Linked DNA regions of Homo sapiens. The protein of the gene in region 1 purifies or fractionates together with the protein of each later gene. This does not show direct contact. Each region holds a gene or a part of one and is shown on either strand. Other genes may lie near its edges.

Evidence for each region. The genes of interacting proteins can lie anywhere in the genome.
Region 2: the proteins of NTM (region 1) and PDIA5 purify together in Homo sapiens (affinity purification with mass spectrometry, with the first as the bait; one large-scale study listed by BioGRID). This does not show direct contact.

What each region holds. Positions count from the first base shown.
Region 1 is NC_000011.10:131,373,593-131,377,242, forward strand, and holds part of NTM (neurotrimin isoform 9 precursor), read left to right. Parts: intron 1-3,650.
Region 2 is NC_000003.12:123,153,875-123,157,524, reverse strand, and holds part of PDIA5 (protein disulfide-isomerase A5 precursor), read right to left. Parts: intron 2,555-3,650; coding exon 2,484-2,554; intron 1-2,483.

The DNA.
Region 1 (3,650 bases):
TCGTTGCCGGGAGCAGACGCTACAGAACTGGATCAGGCGCTGTCCCTTGCAGAACACCCACCGCCCACCTTCTGCCACTGAGAGCCTCTGAAAGGAATGGCTGCTTGTGCTGCAGCTTCCTCTTTCTAGAAAACCGACCATTTCTCCTTCGAAGGATTATTGTTTCTTTTAACACCTTCAGATTTGCTTGGCTAGGTTCCTCTCTTACCTTTCTCATTTCCTCACCTCTCCTCACATCCCGCATCCGCTTAGCAGCTAGCCTGAGACACAGACAGGGCAGAGGAGAAGGAAAAGGTGCCTCGGCAAAGTTCACACTCCCCTTCGCGCAGCACCCGGGAGGTGGGCGGTGGGCGCCGTTCGGCTGGGCAGGCCGGCCAGGTTCCTGCCATGCACAGTACACACGTGGTGCCAGCAGCAGCTTGAGCTGGGCAATGCTTCTGATATTCAGGGGTGGCAGACGAGACCATAGCAATATCTACTGGCAAAGTGGAAACATCAGCCTGGGATGATGGGACCCTGGGCCTGACATAGGCATTGTGGGCTCTTGGAAGCATGGCAGTAAGGGGAGGGCGTCAGGGAGCCTCATCGAATGGAACCTGCCTGCCAGGCTTGGGGCTGCCAACTTGAGGCAAGTTCCTGGCAAGGCGTGCACAGTGGCACAAATGTAGCTCACCTCCGCCCTTTGTATTAGGAGGCCACCCCACCAATGGGGATGGCCGTCTGAGCATTCGCTCAAGCGTGCCTGGAGAGTGTCTGCCCTGGCCGGCAGGTCTCGCTGCATGAAGACCATTCTTGAAACTGCAGCTTTAGTTACCAGGCACAGAGCCTGGTCCTGGTCCTGATTCTTCCCTTTTTTGGTTCCCTTAAAGCCAAATATAAGCCCCCAGATCTCGTCTTATCAGCTGCAATGTACAGTCCCTGACTTCTGTTCTTTCTCAGTAACCTCCTTCCATAGCGCTGGTTTTAATTCAGGCGTCCTGCGTAGTGTCTTCAGGTGTGTCTCTTGGTTCCCTGCCTGAGGTGATAGGGTCTAGATTGCCTCCTGGCAGTTCCCTGGGTTCTGCTCTCTGCCTGCGTACTGTCTGCCAGGCTGATAGTGGCTCCTTTTCTTGATGGGCCAAACAACCTGGTGTTGATTTTAGCCAAAACTTGTCCCTTGGGATGAAGTGAGCTCTCTCAACATCCCAAGAAATGGCAGAATTTCTGAATCAATATGGGGCACATGATTCTGACGTGTACAGAAAACACATGCTGGAGAGATTTGTAATGCTCTTGCCATTCAATCATAGTAGAGGCACACTTTGGGTAGGATGAACAGGTCTGTGATTTGGCTTTTTTCCTAGTATTTTGGATTCAAGCTCATGATCTGCTTCTGCTCACAAACTAGAATGCTAAAGATTAACAAACAAACAAACAAAAAACCCACATTGCTCTCTCTCTTGCTGCAGCAGAGATCCTACAAATGCTTCACACACCCAATATGCGTGGTCTCCAGGTTTCAAGCCATTTCTAGTGGTCTGAACATAGCTCCATGGGGGACATGTACATCTAAGCTCAAATTTCTCTGTTTTCTGTAGGGAAAAATCTCTCCCTCTGCGGGCCTATCTCCCCACCTGCCCACCAGGCCGGGGAGCGACTCCCCTGGGTGTTGTAAGGACTCATTAATGCTTGTAACACTCCAAACATGTGGTGCTAAGTGGAACTCCATGCTGAGATTATATTTATGCAGTTTACTTCCTTTCTGCTCTATTGTCTTGTTACATGTTTACTTTATGTCTATAGTCATTTGAAATTCAATAAAACCAATTAAACATAAAAAAAGAAAGCATGCAGTAATAAAGAAGTCGATGGCATACAGTTTGGAAGGGTCAAAGGGTACCATCCTAGTGTTCCTAGAAGCATCACCTCCCCATTGCCGGAGGGTGCTTCATCTTATCAGAGAGTGCACTGGGGAAGGGCAGAAGGGCTTTAGAAGGCACTTGCAGGGAGCATGCCTCCCATCCCTTTGCAAAAGGAGGCTTCAGTGTGGGACTGCAGCGTGAATGGTGGAGAGGGGGAGCACTAGGGAGGATGGAGCTGGAGGTAGGAGTTTCAGAAAAAATAGCTCTAATCTGGATTGGCAAAGGGTGGGAAAAAAAGAGCTCTGGCTTCTGCTTTGACTGATTTTGGTCGGTAACCTCTGAGAACTTTATTTTTTCTTTCATGTATGTATGTATGTATGTCTTTATTTATGCAACCCTCTGGATTAAGCCTGCTCTTGCTACCACTGCTTAAACTGAAAAGATATAGGACTGCATCCATTTTCCTTCCCATTCTCTCTCCCTCCTTCCCTCCTTCTCTCCTTCTGCCCACTCCCCCTACTTCTCTGTTCTTCACCTTCTCTTTTTCTCTTTCCCTTTTTCTGTTTTCCTTTCATTTTTCCTTCTCCTCTATGGGAAAAATAATTGATCAGTTGACAGATCTAGGTCAAGCTGGCAGGGGTTGCTCTGCTTCATGCAGGCTTGCCTAGGAGAAGGAGGGGAGAGCCTGTCTTCACAGTTCACAAGGAGCCCAGCTGATGGGATGGAAGCGGGGAGGGAGGCCAACGGACCATGGGCGAGTTCAGCCCTCCCCAAAAGGTTCTCTGGGATCCTATTAATTACAGAGTCTTCCATTATTTGGTATCTCTCACACTCTAATTTTCCATATCAAATTTATCTTTGCCTATTTCCTGCTTTTTTTCTCAGCTTCTATAAGCTGTCTGTTTCGGTTTTTCTTGTTCTTCTTTCTACTTGCCCCTCCTTTCTCTTCTCCTTTTCTACTGCTTCTAAAATCATGACAGGAGATCACAGAATCTCCCCTACTTAAGTCATATTAGAGAAATGGCCTTTTGTTTATTTGCAAGTGGAGAAACAGAAACCCTGCCAGAAGAGCTCTGTAAGTCATTTGCAAACTGCAAAACAAACCAACAAAGATTCACATTTTCATTGCGGAGAAGAGCGTATTTCAAGAGAGACTGTCAAGCTAAGAAATCAAATATTGGAAAACACATTCTTCAGCTCTGTTACTAAGGACATCTTAGGTTACTAAATTTGATTTTTTTTTTTTTTTTTAGCTTCAGTGAGAGTATTGCCCTTTGCGATAAGAAAAGACTGATCAAAAGACTGCTGGTTTTGGCTTTACTTCCTCATTCAAATTCACTCGCTAGTGGTGCTTCCTTTGCTCATCTTGGAAGCGCCACCAAACTCTCACCCTAACACCAAATCCATCTGGTTGTTTATTTGCCCACGGGTTCAATCACATCCAAGTGTTTATTGAGTGTCTACTACGTTCGGTGCACTGTTTTAGGTGCTGGAGATAAAACAGCGATGAAAAAGCAACTAACGGATAAGACCAAAGACCTAGTTGGGTCTCTCAGATTTGGTTTGGCTTGGCATCCTTTGTCATAAACGGAAAGCAACAACAGCAGTACCGGAAGCAAGGGTGGAGACTTCATGGCACAGCCTCTGGCCTCCTGTGCAAATGATGATGGATGGCAGGGAAGTAACCAGCCCTCAATCCTTGTTTTGAGACAGGGGTTTGGGAAGAGGAGGTGCACACCCTGGCTCTGGGTTCTCATAACACAGAGATGCTGCCTTTGCTACTCCACACAACCTCTTGTAGAAAAGGAG
Region 2 (3,650 bases), on another chromosome or scaffold:
TTCTGGCTGTCAGTGACCCGCTGGGCATTCCTGAACAAGGGACACAGCTCCTCTCTGGGCCTGGATCCCTCACGAGTAAAGGGAGAGGGGACAGGCCAACAGTCCCCACACACCAGCCTGTGGCCAGCACAAGAGCCAGCTCTTAAAAACCACAAATTTCCAGCACCATCCCCCAGAGACTCTGATCTGATAGTTGTAGGATGGGACCCAGTAGTCACAGTGCCATGCCTGGAGCACAGAGTGGGCACCAGTAAGTTCAGCCCCCCAGGCCAGATGGCTGGCTTCCCTGATGTCATGAATATAACCTCCAGGAAACCCAGGCAGGCCACCTGCCTCAGACAGAGAGGTTATGAAGTGCATTCCTGAATGCAAGTGAGGGTGATCCCTGGCTTGGAATAAAGGAAGCTGAAAGGAGAGACAGAGGGAATAAGAGACAGGAGGACTGAACCCAGGAAAAGGCCACAACACCACTGGCCCAAGACAATCAAGCAAAGGTGTGTCAGTGTCTAAGCGGAGGGGAGCATCAAGGAAATGGGCCCCCATGTAGCAGTGCAGGGGGAATGGGAAGAGAAGACGTGGGCTCTCAGCTGCCCGCTGGAGGCCTGGCAAGTCTGGCCTCACCTGCACTGATGTGGGTCAGGCCACAGGACAGCCTCAGCGGCGGTCTAGTGGGCAGAAAGGGGCCACGTCAATGGGGCTGCCCCTTCAGGGTTTCCCCAGCCCCCTCGGTGCCTCAGCTGGACCACGCTCCCTGACACCATGCTCCCCAGCATGGCTGGGAGGGCAAGCCCAGGATCTGTCTGCCAGTCATGCCTCAGGACCCTCACAGATCTCCTGGGGCCTATGGAGACCTGAGTGTCCAGTGGGACAGGGAGATGGCACACCTCAGCCTTTCTCCTGCTGCCCAGAGCACCCAGCATTCTGGGTGGCACGTGATGGACGTCAATACAGAGTGGCAGCTATTCCGGTCCTGTGGACTGGCAGCCCAGGCCATGCTGGATATCGTGGGACCACCAAGCAGGAGCAACTACCCTGTGCTGTGCACAAGTGGGTGGGAACAATGAGGGACATGGACACGGGAAGGAAGCCCCTGCTGCCATACCCCACTCAGTGCAGGGAAAGGGGCAGGCAGAGGAGAAAACGCTTCTGGTCCTTGTACTCCCTTCTGGTGGGGGTGAGGGGTGCCTCAAAGCCGCAGCCAGGGCTTTCGGGTAACAATGGGACCTCCTGACTCCAGAGAGAGTCCTGGGCTCTGGGTCTAAGTGAGAATCAGGTTCCCAGTTCATCCCCACTCTGCCTGCATGGGCCTGTCCCCAGCCTGGCTTCCTTTGGCTTTATGTCCCTGTAAAGTTCTCATTACCCCATCTCTGCCACTGTCTCTGGGCCTGTTAAGGTGATCCTAGCACCTGTATCTCTGCTCCCACAAGGTCTGGATGGTACCTTTAGGCCTGACCTCCTGTTGGCCTTGATCAAAACTTCAAACCCTGCCCACCCGGCCCTGGGATGGTCATCTGTCTCTGCTTGTGAGGGCTGCTCCACTAATACCTGCTCCCCTTTCCTGCCTCGGCTGAACTTCCGTCTAGGCCTGCTTGGCCTGTTTATCATCTAGGACTCTATGCTCAGCTTATGCCTGGCCTTGGTTCCTTCCAGCCTGCCCTGGCCCCACCTGGGATTCCACCCAGGAAAGTAAGGCACCCCTGCACGTGACTCTGGGTTTGGGTGTGTGTGAATGCAGATCCCACGTGACTGCCAGCTTCTAGGGCCTGTTAGGCCAGAGGTTCCCATGACTGAGTCTCAGGGCTGGGAGGAATGTTTGCAGTCCTCTGCACCAGTGCTCCGCCTGGCATGGATGAGAAGGGAACTCAAAGGCTGGCAGTCAATCACACTTCCCCGAATTCAGGGGTATTTCCCTGCCCCACAAGCCCTCTCCCAGCAGAAGCCCCCACTGCACCAGCTGCCTGGGGGATGTGCCTGGGGGACGCGCCTGGAGGCCCTGCACTCTAATCCAATCTGCAGCTCTAGCTTGTTAATTTTATGCTTCATCAGTCGGCAGCTGCAGGAGCCTTTCACTTAGGCAGGGCGAGGCTCCACTGACATGGCCTTGCTCTCCTCCACCATGGCATCCTCCAGTTGACTTTTGTTGGATTTTTAAATTTGTATTTTTAATTATATAAGTAATGCATGATGACAATCCTACAGTAAAAAGGTTCAAACACTAAAAAAGTAAATAGATGACCCCTTTAACCATCCCTCTCCTCCAAGTAAGTGCTGGAATGGTTCAGCATATCCCTTTTAGTTGATTTTGCAGCATAAATCCAGCCTGCCCTATCTTCCTTCTAAAGAGAATGTCCTGGTTCCCAAGGAATTTCCTGCTTACAGGTCTTAGCAGACCTGCCCCTGTTTGGGGAAGGACCTGAATGACAAGAAGGAAGGTGTAGGAATTAGCTGCAGGCAGATCAAGAGATGAAGAGCGCTGTCCTTACCTTTCGGTCATCTTTGAAGGCATCAGCAGTAGCAGTAAAGTGCGGAATGACCTTCTTACAGTGTGGGCACCCTGTGTGAGAGGGGAAGAGAGCACACAGGACTGTGATGCATGTGCAGGGAGGCTGCAGGGCCAGGGACCCTTCCTGAAAGCTCCAGAGAGGGCTCTCCAGGAGCTCCCCACTGCCCGCCACACTGTCAGGGTCCTTTTGTCAACCTTGCCACTCTAACCACCTCCCACCCATGTCTGATCTATTGGTAGGGGGGACTGGTAGGAGTCCCTGTCACAAGCATCATATGCTCCTGCCCAGGCTGGGGGGCGATGGTCACTGTAGTCTAGTTCTGCTCCTTCCACAGAGGACGAGGAACAGCCTGATCTTGGGGGCAGAGGGAGCTTTGGGCTTAAAGAGGAAGGCACGGGATTCTCAGAGCCGCTACAATCTTCTCTTGCTCCAGGGACAATAGCAAATCTCTCCATTTCCTGACTGAGAGGAAGTGGCGTTGGGAAATGCAGGGTGGGGGGATTTTGGGGCAACTACTCTGCACCCACTGCTCATGATTTGCTGCTAACTTCTGCATTCCTAGCAACCTCCACCCAGCCCAGACTGTGAGCAGCCAAATCAGGCCCTGGTCCCCAGGTCTCCATCTACTCTTTGCTCTACAATAACCAGAACCTCAAAGCCAGGAACAGGAAGGCCATGGTCAGGGTAAGAGGGAGAGGAGCTACGGGAAGTCACCAGGCAGTCCTCAGGTCCCTTGATGCTCCCTGTCCCAGGGAGAAGGCTTGTCAGAGCAGCCTAAGGCCTTTGAGCTATACTGGGGCCCCTACCTCCAGCATCTGTCTCTTGTTCTGGGCATCACCCTGAGCCCCAACTCTGACCTCAGTGTCTCAGAAGCAGGGTAGGGACCTCTGTGGGGGCCACTTTCTCCTCCTGTCCTGGTGAGCCCAGGAGCTGCAGGCTGATCCAGCCCTTCCCTCAGCACTAACAGATCAGAACCCAAACCCCCCTCCTCTCTCAGCCCTTTCCCAGTCACTGGTGAACAGAACTGTCCAGGGCACAGAAGGGCTCTGAGGGGAGGGTTTCCCTGAGCAAGGGGAGGCTCCAGCCCACACCTCTACGTCAGCCAGCCTCCCTCAGCCTCGGGAAGGCAGAGATGCCACGGTGGGA